Linked DNA regions of Homo sapiens: region 1 is linked to region 2. A link means that fine-mapping ties the variant in region 2 to the expression of a gene that starts in the linked region. Tissue or cell type: atrial appendage. Region 2 holds a variant in brackets; the other region holds the start of a gene. All regions are shown on one strand. Distances are between the middles of the regions.

Region 1 (8,105 bases), 370 kb after region 2:
TTTAGGAGGTCCCTATGTCTTCTTGCTTTTAACTCTCCCACCAGCACAGATTATCAAGATTTCACCTGCAGTCCTGTACCTGCTTGAAGTTCTGTTCTATAATATAACTTGCATTATCTGTTATAGTCTGCCATCTGGATACTATCAAAAGAAGATAATAATAGTACTCACCTTACAAGGAAGCTTTGAGGATTAAATGATAAAAATTAATTTGTGGAAAGTATACAAAACAGTATCTGGTTATCAGGGGTTACTTCTCAGGGCAGGAAAGACAAATAATAGTGGTTCACATCCATAAAGGTATGGGGGTATGACTAACAGCAAAAGGACTTTCACTTCAAGCTAAAAACTAAACACCATCCAGTAGCAATGAGCAAGCCTAGCAGCCATATCTTGGTTTCTAAGACTATTCTCCAATAAAGTGAACCAAGGCTCCTTGGAGAAACAACTCTAAGACTGAGACAGAAAATATACAAGATGAGGCTGGGCACAGCAGCTCACGCTTGTAATCCCAGCACTTTGGGCCAAGGCAGGTGAAGTGCTTGAGCCAGGAGTTCAAGACCAGCCTGGGCAACATGGCAAAAGCCTATCTCTCCAAAAAAATACAAAAATTATCCAGGTGTGGTAGCATGTGCCTAGTCTCAGCTACTCAGGAGGCTGAGGTGGAAGGACTGCTTGAGCCTGGGAGGTTGAGGTTGCAGTGAGCCAAGATTGCACCACTGCACTTCAACCTAGGCGCCAAAGTGAGACCCTGTCTCAAAAAAAAAAAAATACACACAAAACATACACACAAGATGAGTCTGGAGTATCTTGTAGTACTGGTAAGAAAATGATCAAAGTAATGAACAGAGAACTCTCTCCTGCTCCTAATGATGGGGGTATGTCAAAGGGATCTAGGAGTCAACTGAAAGAGCTCCCAATGGCCAAAGCTGAAATAATTTGAGCAAAATAAATAAAGTAGTATTGGATTACAAGCCAAAATATAAAATGAATATTCATAATCCCACTGTCCTATAAGTAAGTGATTTAAAAAACAAATAAACAAGAGGAGAAGAGACAGATCTTCCATGCAAAAGAATTCCAAATCCAAATAATTTATGCAGATAGTCCTCAAGGACAGGGGAGCATAATTCTCTAGTCTTTATGGGCTGTGACAGTAATTTTCCTTCCAAAAAGTAGAGTACAAAAAAAGAAGGAAAAGCAGTAACTTTACAGTGGAGAAACCTGACAAACACTAGCTCAAGCCAGATAATCAAGGTTAACACCAACAGTGACAAGTCATAAGTATTTACCCTTGATATGATGTAATCAAAGATGGCACTTTACCTCTGTGGTTCTCCTCCGCAAAATACATTCCCCTAGTCTGATGAGAAAAAAACATCATGCAAATCCTAATGAAATGACATTCTATAAAATACCTCACCAGTACTCCTCAATACTTTTGAGGTCATCAAAACCAAGGAAATTTTAAGATTCTCCTATCACACCACACCCAAGAGGAGTCTAGAGACATAACTATAAATATAATGTGATATCCTGAAAAGAATCCTGGAAAAAAAGGAGACCACAGAAAAACTAAGGAAATCTGAATAAAATGTAGTGTATTGGTTCATTAATTGTAACAAATATACCACACTAATGTAAAAAGTTAACAATAGGGGAGACTGGATGTGAGGTAAATGGGAACTCTCCATACTATCTTCACCATAATTCTGAAGTACAAAACTGTTCTAAAGTAGAAAATCTATTTCAAAAATCAAAGGGGATTTCATCTTTGGCAATGGTGATGCTTAAAAATGAAAAAGAGCTGGTTAAAAAAGTTAATTTCATGTGTCTTTTTTTTTTTTTTTTTTTTGAGACAAAGACTTGCTCTGTTGCCCAGGCTGGAGTGCAGTGGCACAATCTTGGCTCACTGCAATGTCTGCCTCCCAGGTTCAAGCAATTCATCTGCCTCAGCCTCCCAAGTAGCTGGGACTACAGGCGCGTGCCACCACACCTAGCTAATTTTTTGTATTTTTAGTAGAGATGGGGTTTCGCCATGTTAGCCAGGATGGTATCAACCTCTTGACCTCGTGATCCCTGCCTCCGCCTCCCAAAGTGCTGGGATTACAGGCGTGAGCCACCATGCCTGGCCCATGTGTCTTTTTAACTAGCTATTTTAGAGAACAGTCAAGGAAAATAGGAAGAAAAAAAAAATCAGTCCAGGTCTTACCTATTCTTTTTTAGTTTGGCTTCAGCCGATGGCATATTTTCTAAACAACTGGGACAATAATGGGAGTCCACCTAGGAGGAAACAAGAAAGAAAAAAAAAACCAGAGGAGAACTCAGTTTAACTTGTGTATATGTCTTGTCAAATAGTGAATTTTAAAATATGTTATACTGTAGCAGAAAGTAGACTGTTTTCTGCTTAGGGTTTATTCTTCTTCAGTCACCTGTTTTTTTTTTTTCTTCTTCTTCCGGATTTAAAAAATCCTTCTATTTTTCTGATCTTTCCTATTCCATCATCAGGGTTTTATGTGTTAAAAGTTGTTTATTTAACAATCTACAATTTCCAGTTGAACTCCATAGAATTCTATGATTAATAAAGAGATTAATAAAATAATCCAATTTGTAACATTGTGATAAAATATCCTCCTGTCTAGGCTAGCTTTATATGACTATAAAACTTGACCATACTTTTAGGTTTTGAAGGACATTTTTTTAAAGATTTCTCATTATTGAAGTAATACAGGTTGACTGAAGGCAAGCATAAATATTTATTTACATAGTCAGCTATGGCCAACCAATTAGAGATTTTTAAACAAATTAATGGGACAGTCTTATTGTACTTAAAAAACTGGAGTCTAAAATTTAAGTTCATTTTATTTTTTAAAAGTCTGAATAATTATTTTCTTTAATGTAGGTCCTATTTGACAATTATAGAACTCTAGTCACCTGCAAATGAAAAGACAATCACTGGAACATAAATACTATGATAGAAACTGGCTTTTTTCATCATCTGCTATAAACAGGTCAATTTGAAAAGATTAATAAAGTTGTTGCTCAAATAATCTCCAGGAACATAAAATACAATATTGCTAACTAACCTCTGCACTGACTCATCAAAAAAGGCAAAATACAAGTCATTCCTTTTTGCCCCCTTTCCAAATTCTGCTTGTCCGTTCATGTGCAGCTCCAGACCCAGATTCTCCATTAGAACTTCACTGCCTGCCCCAGCCCTCAGAGCTTCATCTTTCCCTAAACTCTAATGGCCTCCATATCACAGGTACACATCAGGCTGTAAAAGATGCTGTCACAGACTGGATGTCCTAATTGAAGAGAGTCTTAGAGACAGATCATGGAGACTGAGCACTCTATTCACCACAGGAGAATATGATCCAATAAATTCTGGAGGTGGAGCTGGAATAGGGAATCATCAAGGAGATACACATAAGGAAAGTGCTAATGGAGATGAGAAGAAAAATCGATGCCATATTTTTAATATATACGATTTTTCTTGTATTATTTAATTGCTTTTCTTGACTATTCCTATTATGAAAAGTATCTTCAATAAAATAAGTTATTAATAACACATAAAATGGCTTATAGTATGTGTTTTCATATGCATTTATTTTAACAGTCCCGGGATCTTCAGTAAAAAACACTCTGAGTTAGGCTGTTTAGATTCAAATCCAGGTCCTCCTTCCCACCCCCAAATTACTGGCTGTGTGACTTACAGCGAACACTCTGTATCTGTTTCTTTACCTGTAAAAAAAATTTTTTAAAAAAAGTATCCACTTAAATTGGTTTGAAGATTACATAAAGCACATGACATATAGCAAGTATCGAATAAGCAGCAACTATTACTACTATCAGCTTTTTCTTCACTAAGACTATGGCTTATTAAACAGCGCATTTTATGTCTTACTCGCCTTTTAATCCCTAAAGCTTACTGAATAAACAAGATGTGCCAAGCGCTGCAGAAGTTTTGGGGTTTTGTTATTTGGTGACTTTTTACTGGCCGGGGTCTTCTTTTTGAAAAATCCAACTTCGGACGCCCACTTGTGCCAGGGAAGGACAGCATTGTCCTCTAGCTCCATAAATACACTTTCAGCTTCTTACATGACATACTGTATTCTGAGCGCTTTTCACATAACTCACGCCGCCCCAACCTCTTCCCGGCTGCAGGCCTTGGCCTGAGTCAGGAACAGGGCAAGGCAGTCTGACGAGGGCCCAGTTTCTGGACAAAAGAGGAACAGAACTTTCAGGATGGGAGAACTATGAATGAGAACGCCTGCGCCTCCCTCCATCCTCGCAATAAATCCTGGAAAGGCAGTTTTTCGCCCCTTAAGTGGCCTGAACTAAGCACCCCCAGACCTTTCTCCGTAGTCCACCCAATTACCAAGCCCCATCGCAGACAGACACGGTCCCTAAGTCAAGTTTGTCCAATCAGAGGCCGCTCTAGAACCAGAAGATCCGCTCAGTCCCACCCGAGGCTGCTCCTCCTTTCCAAGTGACAGATTAGAAGCAAATTAAATCGCAGGCAAACCCGAGTGACGGAAGACATAACCAATCAGTAAGGAAGGAAAATAGCTCCAGCCTTCCGGTGGCAGTGACTAGCATGAACGCCGCGCCCCCCCCACCCCACATACTCGCTATAGGGCGACTCTGTTACCTCGTGAGACACACATTCCAGCGACCGCAGTTCGCTACAATAGCGGCAGAAGTAGAGTTGCGAGAGCGGGGCCCGAACCTTCTTTTCTCCCTGGACTAGATAGAGAACCCGGTCCGACTGCAGCAAGGACGCCATCTTGGGGAGGGAGGAGGCGATGACGCTCCCGGCGCATCACGTGACCCGAGAGCCAGCGTCTTCCTCGCTGCCTTCCCTACGACTTCCTACGTAGACTTTGACGTTAGGTTTCCCACCTCGTCCGGCTCTGCGCCCGTCGAAAACCAGAGCGCGCGTGCGCAGCTGGGATCCCTGTTTTCTCCCCAACTCTGGGCCCGTCCCCCAGCGCTTTTGTGAGCGTCCACTGCCCTTACTGCCATTAGGTCTGGACTCAGTGAGCTCCTTTTATTCTTTTCTTCCAGAATGGAAGCCTGATCTTTTGTCTTATTTACGACGGCCTCCTCTGCCCCACTTAACAGGCGAGCATCCAGGAGACAAATGGAAGGTCTCAAAGGGACAGGGCTCCGTGGGGACTGCAAGACAGGAGTCACACCAGCACTGTCTTCTGAGTCTTGCCAATGGCCTTTGGGAACTTTCACATACATTATCTCATTTGAAACGCAGGTTTTTGAGTACATAGTTAGCGTTAGGTCTAAGTCTGTATTGTGGACCTTCAATAAGTATGAAAAGGAGGGAATGAAATCAATGAATGAACAATGTTGGTAGGCGTCTACGTTTTTCTAATGTGTAAACTAAGGCTCAGGTCTGCCTCTTGGGTGAGCAGCGACTACGTGAGACTGGTATTACATGGGTGGGAAAATAATTTATCAACAGTTTTAGGTAAAGAAATGCAGATTTATTAGAGAAGGTATGAAAATACGTTGAAAGGTTGCAATGGGCAGACCAGCCAGAGAGGAGCTGACTTCAAGGAAACAAAGGCTTGCTGGAGATTTTATCCGATGGTTCTTGGGCTGCAGAGTGCTGTGCAGTACCGAGAACTCCAAGGTTACAGGGAGCTAACTTGCATGTGTCTCGTGATAGCTGAGTGCAGGAAGATTGTGAGTTATTTGCACAGGAGGGCTACGTGTCCTGCACCATGAAGAAAGGCAGACTTAGAGTGCATCTGCTCTTCTTGCTATCCCTTGGTCCCACTAGCCTGACTCCCTTTCTCTAACTGGGACTCCCCAGTATGTAAAATGACCACCTAGAACTGCCTAGCAGAAACTGGAGCCTCTGTTGCCTGCCACCAGGTCTACATTTTTATAATTGTAGTAGTGTTGTATTATTACCTGTCTGACGTTAGAGTTGGTGATTGAGAAGAAAGGGAACTGAATACTATTAGCAAACATTTATTGAGCACTTATTAAGTGCAGCACACTGTGTCAAAACTTTACATACATTGTCTAATTTAATTCTTACAACAGCTCCAAAAAGCATGTGGCTATCATTATTTCTATTTTACAGAGCAGGAAACTGAGGCACAGGGAAGTGCAGTGACTCCTCTATAAGGTTTCATAGATGGAGGTAGAACCCTTTTCTCTCTGACTCTAGTGCTTGCAGGTATAACCCCTATGTATACTCCCTCCAGCATATTTTCTAATATGGTGATGTTAATAATACCTTACATTTATATAGACCTTTTCAGCTTATACAGTGCTAATCTCACAATTTATGTCACGCTTTACCAATTGAGCCTAAAAGTCATTACTTGTTCACCAAGCAATAGCCTGGCACTAATTTAGTTTCATAGGTGACATCTGCTCCTAGGAGAGAATATATTACTAGCCAACTCATTTGCAATTATTTCTTTAGGTTAATGAATTCGTTGGTTTTCTGGTTTATAAACTAGTCTCTACTGAGTTTAAATTCCCTTTTCTGGACTATGCTGTTAAAATGAAGTCCCAGAGCCTGCAGGTACAGAAAGGCTGGAGACTTGAGCTGAATCCACATAAAACAGACACTTTTTAGAGCACTGATTTTAAATAATTAAGTGGCCAATTATCTTGTCCCTGCTACATGCCAGGTACTGGGGAGGGAACTAGCGATAAATGAGATACTTTCCATCCTCAAAGGCTCAGGGTTCTAGCAGGATCGAGTCCTAGTTATGCACAATGGTGACCAGCTTGATAATGTAGCCTTGTGTTGCTTTTTCACTCTACCCAGCCCTGGACTCACCCTCATTCACTTCTCAATCCTGGCTTCCTGCCTGCAGAATCTCATTTTGAGCTCTGCTTTCTAGGGGGAACTCAGGCTAATACAGAGACCCTAAAGTTGAACTGGCAGATCAAAGGATATCCACATTTAATAAATACTGGCAATAAGCCCTTGTGAAATTCTAGGCCAATTTACACTCTCACTATAAGTGTATGAGCTATCCATTTCCCACTGTTTTGCCCACCTGGCATATTATCAAATTTGAGTGGATACTTTTGGCACTTTCTAGCTATGTGATCTTGAAAAAGACATTTACACCTCAGAGTCTTGTTTCAAGACACATAGAATGAGAAGAATAATCCCTGCCTTGGTGAAAATAAAAAATCATCCAGGCTGTGAAAGCATTTTGTAAGGTATGAAGTACTAAGCACATGGAAGAAATGCTCCCTAAATATCCCAAGTATGAAAAACCCAAAGTGGTTTTCATTTTTATAAAGAGTCCTTCAGAGTAAATCCACAATAATAATGGAAAAAACTGGAAGTTAGTCAGACTTTGGTCAAATGAGGTCTTGTGAAGGGGACCGAATCTGGGCTCTGACCTCAAAGACTTAGGGTTTTCTACAGCTTAGGAATCTGGGGAACTGCTCTCACCAATGCTGGCCACCTGCCCTGGCTGCCTTCCCCACTTTTGCTTTCCTACTTGAAAACTATATTAATTATAGGGTTTCCTGTGTTGAATCTATTTACAGGCTAATCTAAAAGTCATAGTAAGTGAATAGAGGAGGAAGAAAAAAGAAGTCCCTGTTTCATCAATATCCATGCTAGCCCCTGTGGGGGCCCTTACTGCCCAGGAAATGTGGTGGTGGCAGGGCTAAAGCTAATTTCCCAAGTGTAAACATGGCAAAAGACTGCTGGCCTGCCTTTATTCTGGGAAATCTTTTGAATTGTTTTTGCTTTTGAATTGAACTGAACTTTGAATTTTTCTTTCCTTTTTTTTTTTTTTTTTGAGACGGAGTCTCACTCTATCGCCCAGGCTGGAGTGCAGTGGCACAATCTCAGCTCACTGCAAGCTCCGCCTCCTGGGTTCATGCCATTCTCCTGCCTCAGCCTCCCAAGTAGCTGGGACTACAGGTGCCCGCCACCACGGCCGGCTAATTTTTTTGTATTTTTAGTAGAGATGGGTTTTCACCGTGTTAGCCAAGATGGTCTGGATCTCCTGACCTCATGATCTGCCCTCCTCAGCCCCGCAAAGTGCTGGGATTATAGGCATGAGCCACCACGCCTGGCCCACTAAAACCACTTT
Region 2 (8,105 bases):
ATGTTCGGAGTCAGCTCTGGAAGGAGCTAGCAGGGTGGAAGCATGTTTCCAGTGGCTGTGGGGCAGGTCAGGCCAGCAGGTATCCCTGTGCATGTGCAGGAAGGGGCCACGCTGCCTCCCCTGGAAACCAGAGTGCCTGAGGGTCATTGCCTACTGGCTGTTTCCCCCTCAGCAAATGCCCCACTCCCCGACCACGTGCTTATCCAGGTCTTGTCCCCTCAGAAGGACAGTAACTCCAAACCTGCCAGAAGCAAGACCCTGGCCCCAGCACCCCCAGAGAGGAACACGGAGGGGTCCTCGGAGAGCAGTGAGGAAGAGCTGCCACTGACCCAGGTGCGCCATGCCTTCTCTCTGCAGATGCTGCAGGATCAGAGCTGGGCTGGCAGGCCTTGCAGGAGAGGGCAGATCTTGCCCATAGGGAAAATCTCGCCATATTTAAACAGCACCTCACAGCTTCCAGAGCTCTTTCCTCTATTGTGACATTCATCTGAGCCCTGTGAGGCAGGCAGCAGTACACAGTTAAACATACAGGCTTCAGAGCCAGGTGGTGTTGGGGCGAAGCCCAGCTCTTCCACCCAACAGCCCCATGGTCCTGGGCAGATGCCTTTTCCCCTGTGTGAGGCTCAATGTTTCAGCCATAAAATGGGGACAGTACTGGCACCTCTCTCCTGCCTCTGTGCACTGGTGCCAGCACACAAGGTACTTGCCACAGTCCCCTGCCTAAGAAAGGGTGCCTGTTAACTGTGAGAAGGGCAGGGAGTGTTGCCCCATTTGACAGATTGGGAATCAAGCCTTAGAGTTGAAGCAGTTTCCCCAAATTCTCATGATTCATAAGAGGCTGAGGAAAGGTCCAAACGCTGGTCCCCTGGCTCCCTGTATCTCTCTGTTTTCTGTTTAGGACCAGGAGTCTTCTTGAATCCCATGAGCTCTGCCCAGGACCCTCTCTCAAGCACCTGTGGCATACCTTCATGTGCTCCACTGCACCCAGAGCTTAAGCCACAGTCCTGCTCAGGCTACACCTCCAAGGGTGGGACCAGGCCCACCTTATCTTCCTGTACTCCAGAGGCCCAAGTCAGCCATGCTGGTGTGGTCCAAGCTTCTGTGTGAACCCTGGCCCTTCCATCAGACAGCATTACCCTTTGTCCTCCTCTAGCCCCAAGCTCCCAGAAGCTTCTGCCAGGCACCTCAGAGCACCAGCTCCCCTGTCCCAGGGCCTAACCACAGATCCTGGAGTTCTGCAACCTCCAGACCAGAGCGGTCTCATGAACCACCTCCCCTTGAATATCACATACCACATTGTTATCAATTCATCAGTAAGGTCAGATGCTGTTTGCACACCTCCAGCAATAGGGTGCTCACTGCCTCTCACTTTCCAATGGCACAGATTACAAAAGTAAAGAACAACCACCACCAACATCGGTAACTCCCTGTATTCTCATTTTTCTGTTTAATCTCCACAACAGCCCTATGAGGGTGGCTCCCTTTGTTGTTTGCATTTTAAGGAACTGGGAGTGAGGCTCAGAGAAGTTGAGGGACCTGTCCCAGCATCACATGGCTGATGACAAGTGGACAGACCTGGTGTTTGAGCACAGGCCATTCACATTCTGACCCGTTGCCTGGTGCTGCCCCGACACTCTCCTCTCCTGGGCTTGGGCATTGCCCTCTGGCTCTGTGTGGAGCCTTTACGAGGCCACCTGCCTCTCTGAGGGATCTAAACAACTGGGAGGGAGGGGACCGCTCCCCCTTTCTCTGTGGGGGTGGACTAACACAATTAAAATGAACATCCTGCTTAAACTGAACCATTTAATTGGTATGTTAGTCCTGAAGATTCTGGAGTCTATTTAAAAAGCAGAAAAGAAGTCAGCGGTTTGTACATTCCCCCAGGAGGATTCGGGGAAGACGGGCATAGCCCGGGGAAGCTGCAGCCTCTTCCTGATTGAGAGATTTTTAGTTCCTAATCCCCAGCTCACTAATTATGATTATTTTCATTATTGTACATTTATTGAGCACCTCTCTATTGACAAGTTTCAGTCTGATTTTATTAGCCCATCAGTGGGGAAAGGGATTGAGGCCAGGGTGGTGGGCAGAGTCCCAGGCTGGGAGGCAGGGATAGATACCTTGGCTCCATTCCTAGACCCCTCACTGTGCCTCCGCCCTGTTGTGCAGAGTAGACCTCAGGCCAGAGTCTGTGCTGGGGTCAGGACAGCTTCCAGATTTAAAAACAAGTAGGTGATACATATGTTAAATAACTTAATTTAGCTATTCCACAATGTATATGTGTATCAAAACATCATGTTATATACCACAAATATATGCAGTTTCACTTGTCGGTAATATTTTTTAAGGCCAACTTCTTCTATTAGTTTGTCAAAGACGTAGGCCCTGCTCTCAAAGTTTTAGGTTGAATCAAAGAAAAAGGAAACCTGTAAGAAACTAAATTCTGGTGTTACATTGAGGCCTAGCATAATTGGTTCTAGAAGGAGCTCCAGTCTGGTGCCTGGAGAACTAACTTCTAATCCTGGCTCTGGCACCAGTTTGCTGGTTGCCCTGGGTGAGGCCACTTGCCTTCTCTGAGCCTCATTCATCTCAATCTCTGGGATGAGACTTCCTGGGTTGGTGGGGTGGACCTTGAGGCTCCAGGCCACATCCCCAGAGAGTAGAATTTCTCAGTCCCCTGGAGTGGGGCTGGCCTAGATCTGTTAAGCAGCCTCAGGCAATTCTGAGAGAGGTTCTTGGAGTGTTTGTTGCCTTTGTGGTCATGTCCCTTGCCAGGGTCCGCAGCCTAGGCCATCAGCCCCCTCTCCCCACTCTGTGACTTGCTGGAATGAAGGCACAGTTAGAATGAGCTCAGCTTTGACAGGATGGGGTGAGCACTGTCCAGAAAGCCCCTAGGTTTGGTTCTGCAGGCATCAGACCTACAGGTAGGAGGGGTATCCCAGGGTTCCCTCTGGGTCCTTACTGCCCAGCACCTATAGGGAGGTACAACCAAATGTTCAGGCCAGTGCTGGTTTTGCTGCTTCACTCCCATCAGTTTTTTTTCTAACTGACCCCAGAACTACATTCCTGTGTATACTGTGCTTTCCAGTTTCCACAGTGCATTGGAACCCCTCCAGTGAATGAGCCCAGGCTGGGATAACTACTAGCCGTTTCATTAAACGGGAAACTGAGGATCAGAAAGTTGAGGGGCTTGACCACACAGTGAAGTCATGAGAGAGGCGTAATGAGAAGCAGGTCTTCTCCTATACCCTGGGCAAGCTTCACTGCCCACCTTTATGAACTCTACAGGCTAATGCCCCGCCCCAACCCCCCACAGCCAAGCCCCCTGCACCACCTCCCTCCTACGGCCCAGAGGCCCAGTGGGGTGGCGTGGGCAGGTGGAACTAACAGGAGGCTTTTGCTGCTGAGCTGCTTTTAACATCCCAAGACGCTATTGTTTGCCTCAGTGGGTTCGTTGCTTCTCTTCGTCCCCGACAATCTGTTCCTGTCTTCACATATATATAGATCCCCCCTCCCTCAACTGTAAGCCTTCTCCCACTTTCCATCCTTCTCTTTTTTATATCGTGGGAAGGAAGGCTCTGGAAGTGGCAGATCGGAGCAGCCGCGGGGGAGGCTATTTGGCAGGGGTAGGAAAGGCCTAAGCCCAGAGAAGCTTCCACCCTCAGGCAGGCACCTTTCTGTTTTACTTTTTACTTTATGCCTCTCCACAGCACCTTAGCACCCTGAGGAGCCAGGTGTGCTAAGTCAGGCTCAGGGGGTAAACAGGATGGTGAAACAGAGACCAGTCTGGACCTGATTCCACTCCTCTCTTAGCCTCAGGCAGCTCCCTCTTCCTGCCCTCCAGCTCTTCACTGGCCAGAGAGGGAGCAGAGCTCAAACCAGATCTGACATTTGGGGAATGGAAAGTAGACCTGACCAGCTCCCTGGCTCACAACCATGTGTGTTCTCGTTAGCTGGAGGTTCAGGAAGGAAATGGGCCTGGAGATGCCCTCGTGTGCGGTGAACATGTTCAGGGATGGTGCAGTTCAAAACCAGACTGGCCTGCAGAATACCAGGGAGCTGCTGTTGCTTGTTTGCTTTTTCTTTTATTGTTTCCTTGGAAAATTTAAAGCATACCCAAAGATAGATAATGTAAAGAACCCCCACGTACCATCCCCAGCCTCAACAGTTAGGAACTCCTGAGCAGGCTCGTTTCACGCAAACCCTCCACTCAGTTCCCCAA[C/T]GCCCCTGGATTACTTTGCAGCCAGTCTCAGACATGTCAGCTCATCCACCAGGATTTCAGTATGCAGCTCTCAGTTATAAGGACCTTTTTAAGCACAACTACGATACAGTGTCACACCTAATAAGTTGATCTACCCAGTCAGTGTCCCTATTTCCCTGATTGTCTCATGGAGTTCAGTTAAAGGCCACGTACGGCATTGAGTTATTAATCCTCTAAGTCTTAATCTGTTGGTTCTCACCCACTCACCCAACCCTTGTTTCTCTTGTGCATTTTTTTGTTGAAGAAACTGAATTGGTATAGCTGGGGAGTTTCATCCTGGGCCATGTATCAGGAGGGCTGCATCAGAACCTCTGGGGTTGGGGCAACTAGACTGTAAATACCTCCCCAGGTGAATTGCATATTCCAACCAGGCAGCCTTGGAAAACTGCTTAGACCACTCCCTGCATTCAGCAAGTAACTGTTTCTGAAGCCAGCCGGGGAAAGAAGGCAGAATTGGACATTCTGGCCGTGGCTTTGCTTCCAGTAGGGACAGCAGCCTTGGGTCGCTCCCTTTCCCTCTGGGCTTGTGGTTTTCCCACTTTGTATAAGGGAGCTGATCCTGCTGAATGTAGGGCTTCACTGTGAGGGTCAGGTGGGCTCTGGGAGTTGTGAAGTGCTGTGCTGGGTCTTAGCAGATGTGTGGGGTGGGAGGGGGCACCCTGGGCAGCTGGAATGGCTTCTGTGCCCAGCTGCCCCTGAGCTCAGTGGACCCTTTGCCTTGTAAAACACTCCCTAACCCCATCACCTCCTTTCCCTGGCCAAGCCTTTAATCACTGGGGGGGTGTTTTGTTTTTGTTTTTCAAGGTGATTAAACCCCCTCTGATTTTTGTCGACCCTAATCGTAGTCCAGCTGGCCCAGCTGCTACACCCGCACAAGCCCAGGCTGCAAGCACCCCGAGGAAGGCCCGAGCCTCGGAGAGCACAGCCAGGAGCTCCTCCTCCGAGAGCGAGGATGAGGACGTGATCCCCGCTACACAGTGCTTGACTCCTGGTGAGCGCAGCCCTTATGCAGTGGTGGGAGGGGCTGCCAGCACTGCCCCACATTGAGGCCCAGAAGGGACAGGACACTGGCTGAGTCACATAGCAAGGTGTTGGTCGGGAGGGGCTTGGGGTCAGGTCTCTGGGCCCTGCATTAGCCATTCTGATTAGGGCCTGGCTCAGACCTGCAGTTCTGGGGGAATAGTTGCCAGAGCTTTTTTGTGGCAGCCCCAGTCATGGAGCCCAGACCAGTGGCTAGAAGCTGCAGGGACCAGGTTCCTACATAGTCTAAGAAAGAATTCTGTATCAGTTGACTGCCTGTGGAACAAGTGGTCAGGGTGGTAGTGAGCTTCCCGTCCTTGGTGGCATGTAAAGTAGGTTAGGCAATCCCTAAGCCAGAGACATCACAGGGATAGATTTCATCTATCAGAGAGACAGGACCAATCTGAGGTTTCTTTGACTTCTGAGAATCTGTGATTCTACCAATGACAACAGGAAAAGGGTTAATGTTACTATTACAGTTATTGTAACAGTTTTACAAGCAATAATACCTGATCCTGATAGGACAATTTAAAAATGCAGACGGGTGCAGTGGCTCACGCCTATAATCCTAGCTCTTTGGGAGGCTGAGGCAGGCAGATCACCTGAGATCAGGAGTTCAAGACCAGCCTGGGTAACATGGCGAAACCCCGTCTCTACTAAAAATACAAAAAATTAGCCTGGCGGGCGCCTGTAATCCCAGGTACTTGAGAGGGTAAGCCACGAGAATCGCTTGAACCCAGGAGGCAGAAGTTGCAGTGATCTGAGATGTGCCACAGCACTCCAGCCTGGGCGACAGTGAGACTGTCTCAAAAAAACAGAAAGCAGGCAAAATAGAGATTACTGCTGGGCATGGTGGTTCGCACCTGTAATCCCAGCACTTTAGAAGGCCAAGGTAGGAAGATCGCTTGAGCCCAGGAGTTCAAGACCAGCCTGGGCAACATAGTGAGAGCCCTATCTCTACCTATCTACCTACCTACATACATATGTACATATACATATACTTATACATATATGTGTGTATGTGTGTGTATATTTTTTTAATAAAAATACAGATTAGCACATAAGAAACTATATCACCTGTAATTCTGCCCCAAATAATTACTGTTAACATTTGACAAATGCTAACTTTATAAAAACCTAAAATATACGTGTGTTTTTAAAGCAAGACCATACTGTATCTAATGTTCAGTAACCTTCACTGGATATTTTATGACATCGGGTTTTTTTCATCTTTACATATTTGCAGCACAATTCCTAATGGCTACAGAGAAATCCCTTGGGTGGACATGCTACAGTGTGTGTAGCCAGCACCATGTTGGAGGAAGCAGAGGGTTTTGTTTCAGGGTGGAGGGGTGAGGGAGTTGGCTGTTATAAACAGTGCTTTGAAGAACATGCATGTAACCAGGCCTCTGCAGATAACCACGGGGACTCTTAGGAGAGACGATTTTAACTGCAAGGAGAGTCGTTTGGTGCCGGTGCTCTGGCCCATTGCTCAGGAGTGGCAGCCCGACCAGTTGGGAGGGGAGGGGATGAGGAAGCCTGGGGTCACCCCCAGAGCAGCCATTTGAGCTCCCTGAGCCTTGTCAAATGACATAATGACATCTCCTGCCTGGGAGGCTTGGAGAGGGAAGTAAACAAGCTTCTACCTCTGTAAGCCCTGAGCACAGCTCTAGATCACCAGCACAGGCCGGTAAATTGGGTTATTGCCGCTGCTGAGGAGGCGATGGGGCTTTTGTGCCCTGATGTGCCCCCATCTCGCTCCATTTCAGGCATCAGAACCAATGTGGTGACCATGCCCACTGCCCACCCAAGAATAGCCCCCAAAGCCAGCATGGCTGGGGCCAGCAGCAGCAAGGAGTCCAGTCGGATATCAGATGGCAAGAAACAGGAGGGACCAGCCACTCAGGTACCTGGTGGGCAAGGGAGGGTAATGCAGGCCAGTGGGGTGGGGCCCTACTTCCATACTTACCCACATGTGCTGATGGGATGGCCTGCAATTGCTGTCACGCCCACACTCCAGAGGTCGTGGCCTCACAGCCAGAGGCTTTCTGGCCTCCTAGCTACAACCCCCCAAATCACCTTTGAGTTATGAGGAAGAGTAATCTGGGGACACAGCCTCCTGGCCAAGCAAGCCCTGCAGCACTCGAGTCCCTCATGAGATTTTCCAGCGTAGTGGGGCTTTTGATTTTTTTTCTTCCAGTTTTGAAATGCCATGAACAAAAGTTGCCCTTTTTTGGTGTTTGTAATAGTGACTTCAGCATTCTTCCAAGCCTTTACCATCTTCAGTGCATTTTTATTTGGTCCTTGCCTGAATCTAAAAGCTGGGCATTTTAGGGTTAATGGCTGGTGCATTGTTTAGATCATAAAACTTAGCACACATCCCCACCCCAAGGGCTGCGATGTGACCAGCATTCAGCAAGGCCGGAACCCGGGTCTTCTGAGACCCAGTTCATTGCTCTTTGGGCCATATCAGTCTGGTTTCCCATCCCACTGAGAGGATGAAGTCCATGACACACTCTGACCTCTCTTCCTGAGGGGTGGGCTAAGGGGGTGTTGGGGGGCGGTGGGGCTGGTGTGCCACCCACTCCCTGGGCTCATCACAAGCTCCAGGTCAAAAACTTCTGGGAACATGGGTGTCGGATGGGAAGTCAGGCTGTGGTCACTGCATCCATGAGCATCGGTTCCTGCCAGGCCCTAGGGATACTGCAGGAACCAAGACAGGGACAAGGAATTCCCAGGCCAGTCAGGGAGTGGTGAGGGGCAGCGATTAAACAAGGAAACCCACATATAAATAAAAAGTATTCACCAGCTGGTAGGAGAGGAAACA

Which allele goes with the higher level. Positions count from the first base shown, and alleles are read on the strand shown. Sizes are in standard deviations (SD) of each study's normalised expression.
With allele C in place of T in region 2, the expression in atrial appendage of the gene that starts at base 4,813 in region 1 is higher (large effect, 0.89 SD a copy in GTEx).

Evidence for each region. PIP is the estimated chance that this variant, and not a neighbour inherited with it, causes the effect.
Region 1: DCTN4 starts here. The variant in region 2 is fine-mapped to the expression of DCTN4 in atrial appendage (GTEx, PIP 0.99).

Annotation. Positions count from the first base shown.
Region 1 is chr5:150,754,205-150,762,309 of GRCh38, forward strand. DCTN4 (dynactin subunit 4) reads right to left here and starts at 4,813. Exons shown (of 13, transcript NM_016221.4): 1 at 4,655-4,813; 2 at 2,213-2,283. The coding sequence starts at 4,789. RefSeq lists enhancers at 4,089-4,158, 4,589-4,888.
Region 2 is chr5:150,382,840-150,390,944 of GRCh38, forward strand. It overlaps TCOF1 (treacle ribosome biogenesis factor 1), which reads left to right. Exons shown (of 27, transcript NM_001371623.1): 18 at 5,063-5,249; 19 at 7,048-7,184. Among named protein-coding and RNA genes, the nearest start is that of CD74, 26 kb to the right of the region's middle. The variant C/T (reference allele first, on the strand shown) is at 4,220.